Linked DNA regions of Homo sapiens. The protein of the gene in region 2 purifies or fractionates together with the protein of the main gene of each other region. This does not show direct contact. Each region holds a gene or a part of one and is shown on either strand. Other genes may lie near its edges.

Region 1 (7,749 bases), on a different chromosome or scaffold from region 2:
TGTCTGACGTTTTCAGAGTTTTAAAGAGATATCTAGACTGCTTTGTTCATAAAAATAGGTGCAGTGTAGAAGTATAATTCCCTGAAATAAATTTTTTAAGATCAATGTTTTTCTTGATAACAATTTTATTGTTATATACAACTGTAGAATAATCTATTCAGGATAAATATGAAAAAAATAGCAAAATAAGAAAAATAAATATTAACTTCTGATAGAATTTTTAAAGTATTTTTATTAAAATACTTCTGCCATAGTTGTCATAATTTACAAACCCATAAAGGCAGTGCAGTAGAATTATCACCGTTTCCCACAAGAGGAAATGTTTTGCAAGTATTTCTGAATGTAGCACTTTTTATCACTGACTTATGTGTACAGAGCTTTCATATGTATTTTAGTTCACCACAAACACTATGTTTGTATTTTCCAGATAATCTTTTATACAGTTTTAAGTTTCCTGCCCTCTCTTCAATTTAAGTTATCTCCTTTTGAGTGAAATAAAAGACTAAGGAAATAAATAATGGTGGTTAACCTAAACCCAAACCATGAGGTTTCTTGCCACTGTCAATACTTAACAAGTCCTGTGTATACGAATTCTGAAAACACTGGCTCATGTGCCATATGAAACAACAATAGGAATTTTTGGGGAACAAAGACATTATTTAGTCAACAATGAAATCTCATTTTAGGATTATATTCCAGGTACCATACCAAACTGTTTTCAAATGAATCCCTATGTATGCTTGTATACGTTTTATTTCTTAATAACCGTGTTTTAACATTCACCCATCTTATTCTTCCAGTCATTTTACATGTGAAGAATCTGCCTCAATTAATTTTTTTTTTTTTTTGAGATGGAGTCTTGCTCTGTTGCCCAGGCTGGAGTGCAGAAGTCCCATCTCGGCTCACTGCAACCTCTGCCTCCCAGGGTTCAATCGATTCTCCTGTCTCAGCTTCCTGAGTAGCTGGGATTACAGGCACCCGCCACCGCGCCCAATTAATTTTTGTATTTTTAGTAGAGATGGGGTTTCACCATGTTGGCCAGGCTGTTCTTGAACTCCTGACCTCAAGTGATCTGCCTGCCTCAGCCTCCCAAAGTGCTGAGATTACAGGCATGAGACACCACATCTGGCCTGCCTCAATTAGTGTCCCCAGAGAATTGTCATATTAAGATTCAGTTTGAAACCCCCCACTAAGTGCCTCACCGCAGTTACCTCCTCATTCACTAGCCACATGAATGCCCGCCTTAGCCTCAGTCAGCCTCTCTGTCTTCCTTCTGCTCTGCTGAGGACTCACTCCATCACTGTGCATGACAGTTTCATTTCCCTCAGGGCGCCTTCCACAGCCACAGATGCATCTGACAAATGCCCCGAGCTCCTAAATCCCATGGCATTGTTTTGTCTGTACTACTCCATCGACACCGAAAACGTGCCAACCTCTATTATTATTTATCTTTTTATATGCATATATCCAGCTCCTCAACTAAGCTTTAAATCCTCAAGGACCCAGAGCACATCTTACGTGATGATGTGCACAACAGCCCCCTGCCAATACATCAGCACACCAAGCACTTAGTGCACAAGGGTGACCTGCCAGTCACGGAATCTGGAGCTGGGTGCTGCAGGTCCAGTGAGCTCCACGCTGCTACAGCCAGTGGTCATGCCCAGCCCTCCTCACATCTGACCTGGCCACAGCATGAGTCAGCTGATCTCTCCCCTCTCCTGTAGACAGACCTTCTGCGCGGCCTCCAGGACCACACCCTGTAATCACTTTCCACCTCCCTTAGTGGCCGTTACATCTGGCAGCGTTAACTAGCAGTTCCTCACATGCCTGGCCTCTTAAACTTGAAGGCCCCAGAGCGCAGTCCTTGGACTTGTTCTTTAAGTTCACTCTCTTAGTGGTATCAGAATCTCATTTTAGAGGTTCAGACTTACATATGAAGCTCAGAACTCCACACTCCATCTAACTGCCTACCCAACTTCACCACTTGAACCTCATTTGGTATCTCAAACTTAACTTGAAACAAACCAAGTTTCCGGTCCTCCCAATCTTAGTTAACAGTAGTAACTCACTCTCTTTCTAGTTGCTTAGGTCGAAAATGTTGGCTCCCTCTTCCAAATACTCTGTACCCAGAATCTGATCACATCTTACCACCTTCCCTGCTACCACCTGGTCAAGATGCCAACACTTCTCATCATGGTTACTGCAAAACAGCATCTAAACAGGCCCTCTTCTACCCTGGCCCTGCTGCAGTCTTCTCTCAGGAACAGCAGCACTGACTCACCATTAGCACTGGAGTCAGATCATCTCACTCCTCTGCCCCAACCCCCACAGTGACCTGCTGCACTTGCATCAAGTCTCTACTTAATGCCGCCCCTTGTCAGTCTGTTCCCACCTCTCGCCACTCTCCTTGCACACGCTGCGCTTCAGCCACTCTGCCCTCCTCAAACGTGGCAGGCATTTTTCTGCCTCAAGACCTTAGCACTTGATAGTGACTCTGCGTGAAACCTTTCTCCCCTCAAGAGCCACAGCCTCATGCTTGTGTCTGTCAAGAGCACGCTCACATTCCACATTCTAAGTGAGCCTTCCGACAATGCTCTCTAAAACTCCAACACCAGCCTACATGCCCACATACCTTATCCCCTTCCCTGTTCAGTTTTCTCCATGGCTTGTATTAACTAATAACATACCACATACTTTATCTACTTATTTCGTTCTTTACTGTTCTTCCCTTGCTCCCAAGAATGTAAACTGCATAAGGATAGGAATTTTCTTCTGCTTTGTACACTGACTTATTTCCCTGACCGAGAATAATATCTGACATACAGTGGGCAATCAGTAAATATTTGCTGAATTAATAAACAAAAGGGGGATGTAGATGATATAAAACATAGGGCATTAGGTCTCAAGCAGCCTGTGGAAAACCATAAATGTAGCATATGTGTTTAGGCTTCAGTTCTGCCACATTTTAGCAATATAACCTAACCTTAGATTCCTTATCTGTGACACGAATACAAATACCTACCTCACAAAGCTGCAGAGGAAGGAAATGAGATAACAACAGGATAAGCACTGAATGATATTCTAATATTATTATTTTATATAAATATAAAATAAAAATATGGTACTATTATAATCAAACTGTTGACAACAGCGACTACAGAAAAACATACTTTTCACCAAACTGATACTTACAAAAAAAGAAAAAACATACACTAAAAACACACATTTAATACATAACATACATATTATATCTGTTTAGGAGCTTCGATTATATGAAAAAAAATGTAAGTGTTTTAAGGGTTCGGGGACAAAGGAGTCCAAGGAAAGTGAAAAAGTTTAACCAGCTTCATGAAAGAGGTGGGTTTTGAGCTGAGCACTAAAAAAACGGGGTAAGATTTTAACAGGCAGACCAGGAAGAAAAGCTGCTCTCCATAGGAGAGTGACACGAGCAAGGGAACCCAGGCCGCAATGAGCGTGACACGCCTGTAGCTTAACCGAGAGCCCTGACAGGTCAAGGGAAACAGTTGTTTACGAAAGAGTAAGAAGTAAGATTGAGTGCATTTAGAGAACTTTGGAGAAGAGAGGAACATGCTAGGGTGAGAAGGGATAAGCACAGAAGGAATAAAGACAAGCGAGGATTCAGGTTGTGATCTGCCCCCAGTGTCCCCTCTGTCGGTGAGTGGAATGTCTAACCAGATGTACAACCAGAAACCCAGGGGGCCCACCACAATGCCTCCTCCTCCCTCTCACCCTCACTAAGTCTTGCAACTTCACTGCCAAGACCTTGAGTCTCACGCAGCTCCATCATCACGGCCACCCTACTCCTGACTCACCACCTAAATTACAACTGTAAGTTAATAAATGCTTCTGAAAAAACGTATTATGTACATTTATATTATTATTGTGTAACATTTTCTCTTAGACATTATGAATCATAAGGAACTCAACATAGCACAAGGCAAGTTTATGACAAACCCAACGACACACTTCCGTAACACCTCACCTAGCACAAACCTTCCTAAGCAGTACTCTTCTCTCTGAAAAGGAGGCTTATCTGACTGTGTGTTTTTTATATGACCTAACCTACATTTAACCTTGACCTCAGTAAACATACTGATCTTTCATTCTCTTACACTAATTCTAACCAATTTGTCAAATTCAGCACAGAAACTGTGTTAAAATGAAAACAATTTAGACTAACATCAAAATGAAAATTTAGGTTATGATTTTACTCTCAACATTCACATAAAATAAAATTCTTTGGTTGGACAGAATTATGCCAAATTATTAGCTCTATTTAAAAATGGTTCCTATAAAAATACATAGAAAATCTCAATAAATGGTTCTCTACATGTATTAAAAATAGAACACTAATTTACAGCTATTTAAAATCAAAAGCTCAGTTTCATAAAAATCCTATTTTGCCCTTAAATGTTGGATAAACAGGCTTACCTGGATTTTTAGCTATCGTTCCTTGGAGAGCCCTGTGAGAAAACGTGGAATACCCCACCAACTTTGCCAGAAGATCTCTGCTGCTGAGCAATTCTTCTAAACATTTCAATTGACCAGCATTGGGATAAAGAAAAATTTTATAAGCAGCTTCTCGCACCTACGTTTAAAAAGTAAATGGTGAAGGCTATAAATATCATCACACAGTCCTATGCAACAATAACACAGGCTCATGCTCACCACTTGATCTGCAGATGATCACTGCTTTCAAAATAAAGCAATGGTCTACACGAGGCCATAAAGCTTCCAGAGTCATAAAATAGCATGGGATGCAATAGCATACTTGACTGCAGCTCTAGGGTACTGTTCTGAGGTACGGTGGGGCAAACCTCTACCCAGTGCGTGGATCTCTATGCTATAAAGCGTCTTAACCAGGAGAAGTAAGGCTGCATGAATTTAAAAGTCTCTGTAGTCTAGAATGTCAGTTAATGGTGTTATTAATCATACTTTAAAAATAAGGAGTCTTGTATGAAATATAAGTAATTAAATCATTTTCATTCTTTAAAGTGTTTATGGCATTAATAATTCCACAAGTTAAATTTTTAGGGCTTAGTAATGCTAAAAAGTTTTTAAGGATACTATTATATTATCACTGAATTTTGGGTTAAAACAGTAGCAACACACAAATGGGACCTAAACAACAAAGAGAATGAAACATACATACCAAGTCATCTGGTGATTCTGCGTGGAGACCATCAATTATGATATGATCCCCAGCAGATGTAAAGTTACGACGAATGTGTTCTGGTAAGAGATGCTTCTCAATCTTGTTGGGAAAATTGGTTCCCATAAGAAATGTACTACTCAAATCCAAGATTTTAACATTGAGGTCCACTGCTCTTTTACGCTGTATGCAGGAGGAGTAAAAGTTATTTAAAGGCGTTTTGAATTAATATTTCACAATTTAATAAACAAAATATAAATATGTCAAATCAACATATATATTGTTGAATTATCACTTAATAAAATATTAGTTTAGTAAAATGAATATATTGTTACTATATTATAAATAATATATTAATTTTACTTTTAACAGATATTTAATATTCTAACAAAAAGATCATACTTATGGTTTTCTGATGTTTCTATGTTTTAAGATTTACATAACTTCTAGTTCTATTTTATGTCTAGGTTATATAACTAATTGTTGAAATTAACAACATTGAAAAACACATGCCAGGTGCAGTGACTCACGCCTGTAATCCCAGCACTTTGGGAGGCCAAGGAGGGCAGATCACTTGAGGTCAGGGGTTGGAGACCAGTCTGGCCAACATGGTGAAATCCCATCTCTACTAAAAATACAAAAATTAGCTGGGCGTGGTGGCACGTGCCTATAATCTCAGCTACTCAAGAGGCTGAGGCACGAGAATCGCTCGAACCCAGGAGGCGGAGGTTGCAATGAGCCGAGATCGCACCACTGTACTCCAGCCTGTGAGACAGAGGGAGACTCTGTCTCAAAAAAAAACAAAAAACAAAAAAACAGTTATTTGCAAAAGTGTAGTGAGCCTCCAGAAGGGGGAAGCACATTTTAAAAGTTCTGATTTTGGGTGTGGTAGCACACGCCTGCAGTCCCAGCCCTATGTGGGGCTGAGGCAGCAGGATCACTTGAGCCCAGGAGGTAAGGCTTCAGTGAGCTACGATCACACCACTGCAACCTGGGCAACAAAGCGAGACCCTGTCTCAGGGGGGAATAAAGTTCTGATTTTGCATGTGCTTGAGCTGCTACAGAATGATACAGTGAAGTCTAAGAAGCAGACTGGAACCCCAGGGCATGGTCCTTTCTTCTACTCTGTGTCCCTGCCATGTGGCACATGGTCCTTGCTCCTGCCAGGCCTTCAAATGGTCAGTGATGAGGACGTGGATGGTGCGGACACATCTGCTTAGGTTTAATCTTGCAGTCATATCTTTGTAATACACAATAACCTGAGAAAACGTGTATTAGCAAAGGGGTTGCCATAAATGCTCTAAGATTAAATATAAACTAGAAACCACATAATTAGGCTGACTGGAGGAGAAGGGCTGAATTTTCAGTTATTGGCTACTCAAAAACTAGACAGGCTCTGCAGATGAATTTTCAGTTATTGGTTACTCAAAAACTAGACAGGCTCTGCATATGAATTTTCAGTTACTGGTTACCAAAAAACTAGACAGGCTCCGCACTGGGCTCATGTTGGGCTTCAGGTGAAAGTGTACACAAATCTTTCTGGGAGAGGAGATAGCAATTAACAAGTTCTAAACTGTTCTATGCTCCTAAAAAATGATTAAGCCACAATACTAATATACTTTTTAAAGATAAACATAGATGATGTAGAGGCATGCTTGATAAGATGCTGAAAAAATTGAGTATATATCAATATCCCCAGAATTTCAATATAGAAAATTCAAATTTCATGGAAAAAAGTTTTAGGAGACTCCCATTTCCTTACAGTCCAGATTTCTCTTTGCTTATTTTGTTTGATATGGCCATTTATCACCACCTAATGGTAACAAGTGGAATAACAAAAAAGATGAACAAGATTTTGAAATCACATTACAGTTCCAAAATTGTCTTCAAAACTTTTACTTTGAAAAAAAAAATGTGATAAAATTAACTACTTTGAAGATTTTATCTACTGATAAAACCTCTGGAAAAATCAAAACTGAGTTCATGCCAACTTCAATGATCTGCCAGGCATATCACTTCATCATTCTGTGGTAACAATGAAATGTACAATAATCTGAACTCTTGAAAAATTCTATGAAATTTCTGTGTTATTAAATAATGTTAAAAATAAACATTTCTATTACATTTAAACTTATAAGTTATATTTGTATGAGACCTTAAAAATTAAGGCCGGGTGCAGTGGCTCACGCCTATAATCCCAGAACTTTGGGAGGCTGAGGCAGGTGGATCACCTGAGGTCGGGAGTTCGAGACCAGCCTGACCAACATGGAGAAACCCCGTCTCTACCAAAAATACAAAATTAGCTGGGCGTGGTGGCACATGCCTGTAATCCCAGCTACTCAGGAGGCTGAGGCAGAAGAATCGCTTGAACCCGGGAGGCGGAGGTTGCGGTGAGCCAAGATTGCCCAATTGCACTCCAGCCTGGGAAACAAGAGTGAAACTCTGTCTCAAAAAATAATAATAATAATAAATAAATAAGAAACCAACTGGAAAGAACATAGGCTTTGATGATTTATAGATTTTGTTGGTGGGTTTATTTCATGGTCTCTCTTTTGAAAAATGGAACATGTCTACTT
Region 2 (7,749 bases):
TGGCTAGTCTTAAACTCCTGACCTCAGGTGATCTGCCTGCATTGGCCTCCCAAAGTGCTGGGATTACAAGCATGAGCCACTGTGCCCAGCCATTTGCCATAATTCTTACTACAGTTGGATTCAATATGGTTTCATTCAATAGAGACCTACCTTACATATCGAATTTATAGAAATATGCCTTACATCTACAAACAAGTAAGCTTTCACCCATTTTGCTTGAACATACGGCCCTCTTGGCATAAGTCTCATTTTCCCAATTCAGAGAGAGATGTGGTTATGAGAAATATTTCACTTTCCTCTTTCATATAAGAAAAACAACAGTGTAAATGCAATGATATAACTTGTTAGTCTGTCCTCAGCATCCAGAAGACAACAGAGCTCTGGCCCCATCTGATGAGGCAGTTGATAACCCTGCCACTCAGCTACAGCAACTATTGCCATGTGGTAATGCTTCTCTATTTGGCCAGATCTTCTAAGATTTCAAGAAAAGCTAGAAATCTGGACTTTTGTATAAATCTTCTAATTTTTTCAACATAAGCAACCAATAAAGTTTTTGAGACAGGGTCTCGCTCTGTCACCCAGGCTGGAGTGCAGTAGGGTGATCTCAGCTCACAGCAACGTCCACCTCCCAGATTCAGACAATCCCCCCACTTCAGCTTCCTAAGTAGCTGGGACTACAGGCACGTGTGCCACCATCCCCAGCTAATTTTTCTATTTTTTGTAGAGACAGGGTTTTGCCATGTTGTCTAGGCTGGTTTCGAACTCCTGGGCTCAAGTGACCCGCCTGGCTCAGCCTCCCAAAGTGCTGGGATTACAAGCATGAGCCGCCATGCCTGGCCCTAACTAATAAAACTTTGAATGTAGGTAACTAATGAAAACAATTTTGTTTTAACACTGTCTGGGCCAAGTTTTGCAGACCCAACAAAACATACCTGAGGGAAAAATTCAGGACTCTAACTTAATAACTTAGACATTTAACCCTCGTGACCAACCCTATAACATATTACTGTATTATTGCCATTTTAAAAGTAAAGAAACTGAATCTGCAAGAAGTTAAGTTACTTGTCCAAGGTCACAAAATAGAAAGTCATGAGGGGTGAGTGTTAAGATTTGAATCCAAGCAGTCTTACTCCAGAGCCTAAGCTCCTAACCACCTATTCTGTGTGTTAACAAGATACATGTAAGGTACAGAAGCAAGTTCTAACCTGATGTATCCTGATATCCACATGGAAAATATAGAACCAGAGGGTAAATAAACAGATAAATAAATGGACAATAAGACAGGTTGTCTGATGAATCCAGAACAGATCAAGACTATGTTCTTTCATTCGATAGTCTACATTTCCCCGGCAAAGCCCAAGAAAGTATTAGTGTTTTTATTGGTTACAATAAAGTGTGATTCATAATGAGAATGACCTTACTGTTATTTAAATAACTAAAACCTACGTCTTTTTTTTTTTTTAACGCCAGGTCTTTTTCAGAGGAAGGAGACTATTGCTGGCTTCAGTAATCCTAAATAGTCCTATGAAAGGACTGTGTCCTATGAAAGACAGAGTATACATGTAAGTATTTACACATGCAAATATTTGAGAAAATGCTTGAGCTACACTTTAGTCTTTTTTTTTTTTCTTTGGAGACAGTCTTTCTCTGTTACCCAGGCTGGAGTGCAGTGGCATGATCACAGCTCATTGTAGCCTCAAACTCCTGGGCTCAAGGGATCCTCTTGCCTCAGTCTCCTGAGTAGATGAGACCACCACCACAGTCTCAGTAGCACACAAACCACTATGCCTGCCTGATTTTAAAAACTTTTTTTTGTAGAGACAGCGTCTTGCCATCTTGTGCATCTCAGTCTCAATCTCCTGGCCTCCAATAATACTCCCCTCACCCAAAGTGCTGAAATTACAGGTGTGAGCCACTGCACTCAGCCTACTTTAGTCTTTCCTAAATTCATAGAGAAAAGGAGCTCCAAATAAAGCTATTTAAAATACTATCGGGCTGGGCATGGTGGCTCATGCCTGTAATCCCAGCACTTTGGGAGGCCAAGGTGGGTGGATCACCTGAGGTAAGGAGTTTGAGACCAGCCTGGCCAACATGGTAAAACCCTGTCTCTACTAAAAATACAAAAAATCAACTGGGCATGGTGGTGGGCGCCTGTAATCCCAGCTACTCAGGAGGCTGAGGCAGGAGAATCGCTTGAACCTAGGAGGCAAAGGTTGCAGTGAGCTGAGATCGTGCCACTGCACTCCAGCCTGGGCAACAAGAATGAAACTCCATCTCAAAAAAATAAATAAATAAAAAATAAAATAAAATACTATTGACTGAATGAAGGACTTTTAGACCCTTATAAGGATTGACTAGATTTTGAACTACACTGTTAATTTGGCTCAAATCTGTTTACAACTATGTAAGTTCCCTGAGAAACACCGCAACTTCCTCCCCAACAACTCTTCTTGCAAACTTACGCAAGGTAGGTGCCTCTGGTGTTCACGTTCATCATCAGATCCAATCTCTTGGTAGGTGTGTCCAATGTATTGGTCAAACTAATGGCACTGGCATTATTTACCAGAATATCAATTCCTGTTTTCAAAATAATCAATTTCATTTTAATGAAAGACTTTTTATCACACACAAAAAAAGCGTTTACTCTCTTGAACCCTCAGTTGATTCACAAATACAGTCATGTACCACACCTAACATTTCAATCAACAATGGCCCATATACGCAACATGGTCCCTTAAGATTACAATACTGTTTTTTTATTTTATCTCTTTTCTGTCTAAGTTTGTTCAGATACATACTTACTGTTGTGTTACAAACGCCTACAGTAGTCAGTACAGTAACATGTTATACAGCTTTACAGCCTGGAAGCAATAGGCTATGCCATACAGCCTAGGTATGTGGTCAGCTAGACTATCTATGTTTGTGTAAGTATACTCTATGTTCATACGATCATAAAATCACCTAATAATGCCTTTCTCAGAACATATCCCCATCATTAAGCAATGCATGGCTATACTTCCTTTAGATAATATGACTAACCACTACCAATGCAAGACTGGTAGCTATTTCAAAATAGCACCTGCATGATTGTCACTAGCACAGTGGAGATATAGCCAATTGCCAGAGCTCCATGTGAAACTACAAGGAGGCTTAGTCTTCGGTGGTTTGTAGCTTCCACTCTTAACTGTTCTCTTACCTCCTGGTTGTCCCTCCCTGTCTCCATAAACCTTGGATCAAATTCCTTAAAGTCTTTCTTCCTCTCTAGCATGAAGTTTCAAAGGCCTGTCCTCCCTCCAAGCATAGTAGTCTCCCTTCCCCCAAGGCCCCTCACTTAAAGGGAAAGGCTCCTTTCTGGTCTTGAGAACTGGGAAAAGAGAAAGACCTACTGTTTCAATCCCAGGCAGATCATCAAAGTGGATCAATTTTGTTTTAGTGACTCATACACACACACAAAAAATAAACCTAGAGTAACTACTATTTCTGCAAATTCTATCTAGTTTCTACCTATAACCAACAAGTTTTGCTTATAGTTATATGCTTAGTGAAATAACATTAAAGGAAAATGGTAAAAATACAAAAACTATGTCAAACATTTTTTCTTTGTTTCTACCTGGTCTTCATTATTCTTTGTGAAGTGTACTTAATGATGGTTGTGTAACAATATAATAAACTTCAATGTCACTGAACTGTACACTTAAAAATAGGATGGTAAATTTTATGTTATGTGTATTTTACCACAATTTTAAAAAATTAAATAATAAATTCAAGGCTGGGGACAGTGGCTCATGCTTGTAACCCCAGCACTTTGAGAAGTTGAGGTGGGTGGATCCCTTGAGGTCAGGAGTTTGAGACCAGCCTGGCCAACATGGTGAAACCCCATCTCTACTAAAAACACAAAAATTAGCTAGGCCTGGTGGTGGGCACCTATAGTCCCAGCTTCTTGGGAGGCTGGGGTTGGAGGATCACCTGAGCCCAGGAGGCCAAAGCTGTGGTGAGCCACGATCATGCCACTACATACCAGTCTGGGTGACAGAGTGAGACCCTGTTTCAAAGAAGAAAAAAAAAAGAACTAAAACTGAATGAATATGGGAGAATGAAAAGCTTCAGCTTTCTCCCCTTACGTCCTCTCCAAAAATTAGTGGATAAACTAATTACATCAAATCCTAAGTGGCACTAGTTAACCACTTTTACTACTAGGTGAAGTCATTTTAGATAAAATATCCTGCATTTGAGCGTGGCACATTTCACATTTAGCGCCCTATCAGTTGGACAAACATCATTTTGCATTTTCTCTCCTCTTCTGACACAGGCATTCACATTTCTTTGGGAAAGGCTGCCGGCTAGGGGTAAGATTTTGGATTTAAGGGAAGAGGCTCCACTTGAGCCAAAGCTCCGTGCTTCAGTCCAGCACCCCACAGCACTCTGCATTGGGATTATAAGTACAGCCTTGCTAACACTGAAGCATTCCCTCATTTTCCACTGGCCATTGTCCCTCACATGTACATATGGTCCTCCAGAACATTAGCGGGGAGAGTGGTAATGGTTTAGGCAGGATTTGGACATGCCTAGGTGCCCTACTATAATACCATGAAAGCCTTAGCTCAATCCCCAACACCTTTTTTCTAGGAACTTTTGAACTAATTGGGGAGAAAAGAAATACTAAGATCTAAAATAGTACAAGATAAGGATCAAATGAATGTTTTAAGAAATCAGAGAGGCCGGGCACGGTGGCTCACGCCTGTAATCCCAGCACTTTGGGAGGCTGAGTTGGGTGGATCATGAAGTCAGGAGTTCGAGACCAGCCTGGCCAATGTGGCGAAACCTGTCTCTACTAAATATACAAAAATTAGCTGGGCATGGTGGCAGGCGCCTGTAATCCCAGCTACTCGGGAGGCTGAGGCAGGAGAATCGCTTGAACCCAGGAGGCAGAGGTTGCAGTGAGCCGAGATTGCGCCACTGCACTCCAGCCTGGGTGACAAGAGCAAGACTCAGTCTCAAAAAAAAAGAAAAAAGAAATCAGAGAAAGAAAAATATAATTCTGATTAGTTGGCATGGTGAGGGAACTGACTTTGTGAAGAAGATGAAATTTAACCACATAAAGGAAGAATTTTTTCAAAAACAAATATATAAGGCACAAGTGCAATTTTCTCACATACATAGATTGTGCAGTGTCCAGGACTTTTAGGGTATCCATCACCCAAACAGCAAACATTGTACCGATTAAGTAATTTCTCTTCATCTACCCCCCTTGCATCCCTTCTTTCTTCCCAGTCTCCACAGTCTATCATTCCACACTCTTTTTCTTTTTTTTTTTTTTCTTTTTGAGACAGAGTCTTGCTCTGTCACCCAGGCTGGAATGCAGTGGTGCAATCTCAGCTCACTGCAACCTCCACCTCCCAGGTTCAAGCAATTCTTCCACCTCAGCCTCCTGAGTAGCTGGGATTACAGGCATCCACCACCATGTTCAGCTAATTTTTGTATTTTTAGTAGAGACGGGGTTTCACCATGTTGGCCAGGCTGGTCTTAAACTCCTGACCTCAAGTGATCTGCCTGCCTCGGCCTCCCAAAGTGCTGGGATTACAGGTGTGAGCCACCACGCCCAGCCTTATCAGATGGTTTTAAATCATGTTCTGTGTGAGCAAATACGTATTTCTCCAAAGACTCAGAAAATTCAAAACTCAAAACAAATTTTTAAATTAACATTATAGTTATACCTTTATTTTACCAATATCCAATAATTTTTTCAGAATGAAGGTATTACCTCCAAATTTCTTGATGGCTTTCTCCACTGCAGCACTGATCTGCTGTTCATCTCTCACATCAACAATACATGGCAAGGCCTTTCCTCCAACTGCTTCAACTTATATAAAGGATACAAAATGAAAAAGCGTTAAAGCATTTAAATATTATACCTTTAATTCCAATATCACAGTCAAAAGAAAAAAGTACCCTGTTTTCAGAAAATCAATATAAATAACTCTATCTTACCACCAGTGACTCTACCATATAGCAGGACAGACTAGCTAGGCTAACACTATTAAAAAACAAAAACGAAGGTTTGGTGGGGGTTTCTTTGTAATTTTTTTAAAAAGCTAAAAAAAGGAAGTTTTTTGTTTGTTTGTTTTTGTTTTTCAGACAGGGTCTCACTCTCTTGCCCAGGCTTGGGTGAAGTGGCACAAACACAGCTCACTGCAGCCTCAATCTCCCAGGCTCAAAGGATCCTCCCACCTCAGCTTCCCAAGTAGCTGGGACTATAGGCATGCACCACCACGCCAGGCTAATTTTTCTATTTTTTGTAGAGACACGGTTTTGCCATGTTGGTCAGGCTGGTCTCGCACTCCTGACCTCAAGTGATCCACCCGCCTTGGCCTCCCAAAGTGCTGGGATTACAGGCTTGAGCCACCTCACCCAGTTGAAAGTAATTTTTAAAAACTTTTTATTGTGGAAATATTCTAAACTATATAAAAATGTAAAGATGCTGTAATAAACTAACAGGAATCCATCACCTATCTTCAACGATTGTTAGTTTTGTCAGTTAATATGTTTATCTTTCCTGTCCCCTGTTTTATTTTTTGCTGGTGTGTTTTAAAGCAAATCCCTGACATCATTTCACTCATAAACACTTCACATGCATTCCTCTAACATAACCACAGTGCTCTGAACATGATTAACAAAACTAGCAATGTCAACTGAACTTGAATTTTTAAGCCCTCTCTCCTGGCTCTGTGCCTAGCGCTATGCCTTAAATAGAAGTATGTGATAATTATTTGTCAACTAAAAGTATTAAAATGATGACTTGCAAATTGTACAGAGAATAAATAACACAGAACGCTTTCTCAAAGAGTTCATGCCACTCACCAATCAAATTCTCTCCTCTCTACTCCACTTCCCTACTCCCCCTCCCATCCAAGAACCACTGCCCTCAAGAACCAAGATTTTTTTTTTTTTAAGAGATGGAGTCTCGCTCTGTCACCCAAGCTGGAGTGCTGTGGCATGATCTTGGCTCACTGCAACCTCCACCTCCCAGGTTCAAGTGATTCTCCTGCCTCAGCCTCCCGAGTAGCTGGGTGAAATTACAGGTGTGAGTCACCACGCCCCGCCATGAAATAAGATTTTTAACTGGAGTTTCTCACATTGCTTAAAAGTGCTGGTGGAGAAAAACGGTCAGAAGCACTGCCCCAAGGTGACAACATAAATACTTCTTTCACTAGATAAAATTATGTTCAGGGTAGCTTTCAAATAGCTTTAACTAAACTCTCCAGCAAATTCTCTATGTATTGAAACCACTAGAAAGACATTTTATCAAATGGCACTGTCACACTCACTTTCTTCAGCAGCAGTATAGATTGTGCCTAGAAGTTTTGGATGTGGCTGGGCGGTCTTTGCAGCAATAACAATATTTGCTCCATCCTTTGCTGCTTTCAATGCAATAGCTTTGCCAATGCCACGGCTTGCACCTGTGATAAAAACTGTACATCCTGCCAGCCTCCTACAACAGAACAAATACGACCTTATTAGAAGACCCAATGTTTTATTTACTGACAGGTATCAGAACCTCATGCATATTTTCATAATATATGTTTCCTCCTCTGTGAAATTTTCTCTAAACCCTCCCCATGCCCATCTGATGGCAGATAACTCCACTATACTCCCATTGCACAATGACTGATAAATTATTTATGACAACTGCAGTTGGCCAGTCTTGCTGTGATTTAGCAAACAAAATCTGTTCAAATGCAAAGCAAATCT
Region 3 (7,749 bases), 7.7 Mb from region 2:
AACAAGTTTTTAAAAACAGTATTTTCTATGGCAATATTAATTTTTAATGGTTATATAAATTCCTCCTTACAGATACAGCAACTTATTATGTCAACCCCTTATTGTTGACTATTTAGACTATTTCCAATATTTCAGTATTCTATAAAATACTGGAATAAATGTTGTTCTTGTACAAAATTGCTTATGAAGTTTTTATAATTGTAATATATACATGTTAGATGTATAGGAAAATGCAGATTAAAAACAAACTAATCATTTTATTTTTGGTGTATCTCTTTTATATTTGGTGTATCTCTTTCTATATTTGTGTATATATGTATTTTTATTTTTTAATTTTAATTTTATTTTTATTTTTGTAGAGACAGGTTCCCACTTTGTTGCCCAGGCTGGTCTCGAACTCCTAGCCTCAAGCAATCCTACTGCCTTGGCATCCCAAAGTGTTGGGATTACAGGCATGAACCACCACGCCTGGCCTGTATTTTTATATATAGTTGTATATGTATACAAATAAACATATATAAGCATATTTGCTTATGCTTATGTAAATACACGATATGACGTACATGTATATCGATTTCTGTATTACGTATGTATTACATAAAGAAGGTCATACTACATTTCCAATGTTTCTTTAATGTAAACAATATTAACATAAACTTCATTTGAGCACAACTATGTGTTTATAATAATACTTTCGATGACAACTACTGACATTTATTGAATGATAACTATGTGTCAGGCCTAGTTTTAAGCATTTTAATGTATTAACTCATTTAATCCTCATAATAATCTAGGTCCTCATAATAATCTATCATTTTATAGATGAAAAAACTAAGGTATGGTGAGGTTTACTTACCCAAAGTCAAAAAGTAAGTAGTGTACCTGGGATTCAAACCCAGGCAGTCTGAATCTGATTATTTCCTTAATATAAAGTAGAATTTAAGTTGACAGAACCAAAGAGCATGTCTTATATATATGTACTTACATATAGTGTATATAGTATACACTGTCCTCCAGAAATGATGTACTGATTACCAATTCTCCTAACACTGAGAATGAATTTAAGATTAAAAAGTGTATGAACACACATTTTCTGTAGTTTTTAAAAAAATAAAACTTAATATGTGCAGTATAGAAAATTAAGGTAGAGGCTAGGTGTAGTGGCTCAGGCCTCTTATCCCACCACTTTGGGAGGCCGAGGCGGGCGGATCACCTGTGGTCAGGAGTTTGAGACCAGCCTGGTGAAATCCTGTCTCTACTAAAAATACAAAAATTAGCTGGGCATGGTGGCACACAGCTGTAATCCCAGCTACTTGGGAGGCTGAGGCAGGAGAACCGCCTGAACCAAGGAGGCGGAGGTTGCAGGGAGCTGAGATCGTACCTGCACTCCACAGAGCGAGGCTCCATCTCAAAAAAAAAAAAAAAAAAAGAATATTAACATAGAGACTTAACCATTTATCTCACTGAAATATGACTACTATGTATGTTATATACTTTCAAATTTCTTTTCTGTATAATTTAGCACACCTATACACATACACACCCAGGCATATTTTCTAGAAGTAATACTGGCAAAAACAATAAAAATAAGGCTTTTATTTTTATTGTCAAATTTTGGGGGAAGATTAAGCTAATATGAACCCTACACAGTATCTGAGTACTTATTTTTTCCTGACCTAATACTATATCCATGTAAGTATACCTTTTATAAGGTAAAGAAATGGCATCTCATTATTGTTTTAATATGCATTTTCTTTAATATATATTTAGTAGCCATGTGCATGTCTACTTTTGCATAAATTTTTATTTTTATTTTTGCTTTTGAATTTCATTTATGGTGATTTTCAGGCATCCAGATAGTTTGAGCCTTTGTATAATAAAATCATAAGTTGATTTTTTTTTCTTCATAGTTTCTTCATTTGCTTTTGGCTTACAAATATAGTCCCAATCCACATTATTAAATAAATTCATCTACATTTTGTTTTACCAATTTTATGAATTAAATTTTTTTCATTAAAATATACAATCCAGCTTGACTTTATTTTCGCATATGGTGTGAGATAGGCATCTAATAATTTTCATAACAGTTTCTCCTCCATGTATTTTCCAACCTGAATATACATCTGTTTTTATATATTCTATTTTCTTATGATAGATTATTACAAGAAGTTGAATTTCTGCATAAAGATGGGTATATTAGGTTTGAGATGTCCATTGGACATAAAGAGATAATAGAAAGGCAACAGGATATTATGATGAGTCTTTCAAATATTTGTTAGCTATTCTTAGACATTTATCCTTTCTTCGTTACTTTTTTTTTTTAAGAGACAGGGTCTCACTATGTCGTTCAGGGGTTGGAGTGCAGTGGTGCAATCATAGCTTACTGTAGCCTTGAACTCCTGGCTCAAGCAATCCTCCCACCTCAGCCTCCCAAGTAGCTAGGACTACAGGTGTTTGCCACCATGCCCAACTAATTCTTAAAATTTTTTTTGTAGAGACAAGCTGTGTTGCCCAGGCTAGTCGTGAACTCCTGGGCTTAAGCAATCCACCAGCCTCAGCCTCCCAAAAGCGCTGGAATTACAGGTATGAGCTACCTCATCAGCTCTTTTATCCTTTCAGATAAACTTTACAAATGTTTTTCTGAATTTGCCACAAAAAATCTTGAAATTCTGATTGAAATGTTTTTCAACATTACAAGTTAAATACCCCAAGTATGTGTTTTATTAAATAAATTTATATCCATATATAAATTTACCTCAATATATATACATATTTACTATATCTCCCTATATAGATATATATAAAACTGGTGGAAAATGGGTAAATTTTTATGAGGGGGGTTTTCATATTTATACAAAACATATATTACTTTTTTGCTTAGAGATAATCTCCCTACCCCAAATAATATTATTTTTAAAAAATCAATAAAAGTACATTCAGAGGAAAAAGAAATGATGAAAGTAACAGACTATTTCTTGAGGTTCCTTCATTTTTTTTTTTTTGAGATGGAGTTTTGCTCTTGTCACCCAGGCTGGAGTGCGATGGCACGATTTTGGCTCATTGCAACCTCCGCTTCCTGGATTCAAGTGATTCTCCTGCCTCAGCCTCCAGAATAGCTGGGATTACAGGCCCCCACCACCATGCCTGGCTAATTTGTTCTATTTTTACTAGAGACGGGGTTTCACCATGTTTGCCAGGCTGGTCTCGAACTCCTGACCTCAGGTGATCCACCCCCTCAGCCTCCAAAAGTGCTGGGATTACAGGCCTGAGCTACCGTGCCCAGCCGAGGTTCCTTCAGTTTAAAAAATTTAATCATTTTGATGTATCAGGGAAAACAGCTATTCAGCATTTGAAGGTTTCATAAGTTAACATTCTAAATAAATAAGATGTAAAACAGATTTTCTCAATTTTAAAAATTACAAAAAACTAAACATTTGGCAATAAATAATAAAACATACTCTATAATGAGAAAGAACCTGACCCAAGGAACTTAGGTCACAATATATATTACAATTTCATATAAGAAGAAATGGACAATTGTACCTCTGTTGAGTGCTCCGTACTCTGTGTGGAACACTCCAACTAGTTTTGTGTAGCCTAGATTGACATGAGCATGAACTGCCCTTTTAAATGCATCACCCCACAGAGCTGGCCCACCAGGTTTCATCTGAAAAGTGGCCAGTTCATAGACTCCTGGAATAGGGAGAAAAAGAATTTTTCAGAAAACATTCAAGCAATATCCAATCACGTTTCTCAGTGAATAGTCTTTCACTATCTACACACACAGATTTGGAGGATCAGACATGCATACATATTATGTAGACATGTTTATTATATTTGCACTCTCTGCTTTTATGCTTAGAAAGTCCTTGCCCATGTTTAAGAGTGAGTTGTTATGCTTAATCATACAGATGACAAAGAAAAAGAACTGGAAGCTATTATAACTATTATCTGAAATATTTTTAATCTATAACATTTGTTAAAAAACTGTTGAGAATGTATAATGATATAGAATTTTGAGCTGCAAAAGTCTATGCTTTTAGAAAATAAAAGAATAAAAGAAGAATTTTCCAATCTATATTTTCATTCTTTCCAATTTCCACTATGTTTTTCTTCATATAATTTCTCCCTATAAGTTTCCATTTTTAACAGGAACAGCAAAGCAAAGAGTGGACCTGAAGTGATATCTTTGAATTTTGGAGGAAAAAAGACAAACCTAAAGAGATGGTTTTATTTTTCCTAAATATCCAGGTAAATACTTGAAAAGTATTGTACACTTTGGACAGAAGTATAGGGCTGGTGGAGAGAAAGAAACTCTGGGACAAGTAGGAAAAGCATGTAAAAATTTCCAAGCAGTGATGTACACAGAGGAGGAGAACCAAGATTTGACACTGTCAGAGAAGTGAACTATTTTATTTAGATAGTGCTGAGAGCTGAGGGGACACCTAAGTAGGTAAAGATCCAAGGAAGACTTTGTAAATTTTTTGTAACCTAAATACACTACAAAGTTGGGAATAATGGGGGAAGTAAAATAACATTTAAATAAGTTTATGCTTTTCTAATCTGACCTTTATTTAAAACTGGATTGAGGTAATAGTTTCTTTAAGTCAGCAAGAAGTGAAATCAGCAAGAAGACAAATCTTAAGCAATTACTTTCAAACTGAGAAACAAGAAAGAAGACACAAAAGTTAGATTAAAGTAATATAGCTTGGCAGTTTCACTTAATCTGTTTCCCCCAAATACTCAGTTTTATAAGCAAAGCTGTATTTAATGATTTAAGATTAGTTATAATTTATGGAAATACTTTTACATTTTAAAGATCATATTATTTTAAAATTATGGCAAAACTTCTTATGCTATCCCTTACCTATCAACACGTTCTCTGCTCCCAATGCACAAATTCTCAACCTCTACTGACCATGTCAGCTTTCTCTATAACACAGTTAAGCTTTACAAATCTGCAAGGTCTCAATTTGAAAAATATCTCATTATTTTATGCTCATTTTTTTAAAGGATGGGGTAAGAGCTCCCATTTATTTTTACCACAACAATCACTGTATGTTTCTATATAAAACAAAGAATTAATTTTATTTTTTTCCAAAGGAACTTCAGTTTTGATCACTTAAGTTCTTTAGTATTTTATTCATCAAAACTCAGTGACTAAGAAGGAAGGACTTACCTTCTTTTGGAGGTTTTTCTAATTTGCACCATGGTACCAGATAAGTAATCTCACTCTCTTGTTTATCAATGAGAGCCAAATTTGGAATGAGGAATTGTTCTTGCCATTCCTTATCTTTGGCCAAGGCTTTCCGAACTTCAGTTCGATGAGCAAAATTATCTGTGGGAAGAAAAGAATTAAGAAAAATAAAAAATTCAATTTTAAATCACCTGTACTTTTCTGGGTTTCATTCACATCAGCAATGGTCATTGATGCCATATAAGAACCTTGTGTTAGGCCTTTGGAGACACCAACGTAAACAGATGTGACCATCTGCCCTGAAGTTGCTCAAGGACAAAAAGGGCAGTAGAAATGCAAACTAACTGTAATGCCACATAATAGGCTTTATAGGCTCAACCATATAGTAGGCAGTTTTGTGAATTAGGTAAGTTATTGAATCTTTCTGTGCCTCACTTTCTGTGAAATTGAGATAATAAGACATCTACCTCCAGGGTTGTATGAGGATTAAATTAACACATGAAAAGAGTTTAGAATATAGCGGTTGGCACTAGTTAATACTCAGTATATGTGAACTATTCTTACTTGATTGAGGCATTTAACTTATAGTGCTAGTTTAGAGAAAGACTGTTTTTCTTTGGTGGTGGTGGGTAGTCAAGTTCAGATACACCCTGAATCAAATTTAACATGAGTGAAGTTAAAACATCTTGAATCAAATTTAACATGAGTGAAGTTAAACCGTACTTTTTAAGCCTCTTCTCCTTTGAACAAACAGATTTCAAAGAAATAATGCTGATTCTCTTATTGTCATCCATTCTTTCTCCCCAGCACTTATTTCTCTTCTATTTAAGTTACCCAAACAGTTATATACATTTGCCAACATATGGGCCTAGTACTATAATTACCATTAGGACCTCATAAGACTAATGGCAAGAGAGGTTCATATGGTTTACATTGGGATAAGGAAGAATACCTATCTTACAACTTAAGTGAGGTATATCAGAACTTAGTTTTTTTAATGGGCTGTGATACAACTTGTACCACATCTAAAGCATAAAATGTATTTTAATGGGGCTTTTTCTATTAACAGGGAAAAACCCTAAACCAAACACTAAATGAAATTATTAAAAATTCTTTAGGTATCATCAAGTCCTGATGTAGACACTGGAGTAACAAGCATTCTGGGCATTCTTGTAACTTATTCTCCTTCCTCTACTAAACCAGGCGTAGGTTAGTTTCAACACGGGAAGAACTCTCTTTCATTCCTTTTCTTTTACCTCCCTAGAGTAGTATGACAGTGAATTCCTCAAAACTCTGGGGGTACAGATATGAAACAAATGTGGTCTCTAAACATAACAGAATTATTAAATCTCAGAGTTCAGTGAGGATTGAAAGTTAACCATCATCCCCTATAAACCTCCATATTGTGAAGTCCCTTAAATGGTTGAATTATTTCTGCTAAAATACTGATATCCAGCCCCCTAGCTTCAAAAAGAGAAAAGATACTTCTCCTTTCCTTTTGTGATCTTAATCCACTTGGACTTTTACAATTGCTGCTTTAAATTTTTCATGAACTATCTTTACAGCAAACCATTTTAATATTTTTCTGAGGTTTAAAGTCTAGTTCACAATTTTATCGCTTGATATATGAGATGCCATGTCTTCCAATTTATAATGTAATATAATGTAATGTTTAAGCAAGGGGTTAGAGGTGTACCACTGGGAAGAATAAGAACTGAATTTATTTTTTTGGTATTGCTTTTCAAAAGTCTTAGTTAACCTGTATGTATCTAAAATAATATACATCCAAGAACTAAGTTTTATGTTACATTTAACAGAATGAAAATCTATACTGAAAAATGAAAATCTATACTGAAAGCCAAAATTGGATGACTCTTTACCATACTTCCAAATATGAAACACTGTATTCATTCTGCCTCCAAATTCTACACTCCAGTATCCAACCAATTCAGAGTGAGCTGTCCGAAGATGAGCGTTTTTCTCAAAATTTTCCAGGAACTCATTCATCTTTGAGGGCTTAAGGTAATAAGAACGAAATTCATAGAATATTCCATCGTATTGTCTGGGTCCCGTAGCAAAAGATGAGCACATCTGAAGAAGATAAGACAAATGTAAATATCTTGAGAAGACAGGATTCATTATATTGTGTTAAAACCTAATCTGAATCTGGTACAAGGGACACTCATAGACTCATTACTCATGTTTGTACTTCTGTTGTCAATTCTCAATATGTTACTGATGGAGGGTGTCCAGGTTCTTGGTGTTTGAACAAAGAACTGGACAAAATGCACAAAGCAAGGAAAGAATGAAGTAACAAAAGCAGAGATCTATTGAAAATGAAAGCACACTCCACAGGGTAGGAGTGGGCCTGAGCAAGTGGCTCAAGGGCCCTGGTTACAGAATTTTCTAGGGTTTCAGTACCCTCTAGAGGTGTCCCATTGGCTATGTGGTGTAAGCCGTATATAAATGAAGAGGATGAAGTAAAGTTGCAAAGTCATTTACTCTGTGTACACCCTATGTAAATGAAGAGGGTATTTCTTGTCATAGCTGAA

What was found. Proteins that work in one complex are often made in the same cells at the same time.
Region 1: the proteins of HSDL2 (region 2) and MIPEP purify together in Homo sapiens (affinity purification with mass spectrometry; 2 studies listed by BioGRID and IntAct, with this or other methods). This does not show direct contact.
Region 3: the proteins of HSDL2 (region 2) and NIPSNAP3A purify together in Homo sapiens (affinity purification with mass spectrometry; 2 studies listed by BioGRID and IntAct, with this or other methods). This does not show direct contact.

The regions. Positions count from the first base shown.
Region 1 is NC_000013.11:23,864,840-23,872,588, forward strand, and holds part of MIPEP (mitochondrial intermediate peptidase), read right to left. Parts: intron 5,357-7,749; coding exon 5,174-5,356; intron 4,610-5,173; coding exon 4,453-4,609; intron 1-4,452. UniProt on the Homo sapiens protein: Cleaves proteins, imported into the mitochondrion, to their mature size.
Region 2 is NC_000009.12:112,403,735-112,411,483, reverse strand, and holds part of HSDL2 (hydroxysteroid dehydrogenase-like protein 2), read right to left. Parts: intron 7,490-7,749; coding exon 7,326-7,489; intron 5,861-7,325; coding exon 5,762-5,860; intron 2,578-5,761; coding exon 2,463-2,577; intron 1-2,462. UniProt on the Homo sapiens protein: Has apparently no steroid dehydrogenase activity. Controls bile acid (BA) and lipid metabolism in response to nutritional cues.
Region 3 is NC_000009.12:104,750,495-104,758,243, reverse strand, and holds part of NIPSNAP3A (protein NipSnap homolog 3A), read right to left. Parts: intron 7,289-7,749; coding exon 7,078-7,288; intron 5,339-7,077; coding exon 5,180-5,338; intron 3,694-5,179; coding exon 3,544-3,693; intron 1-3,543.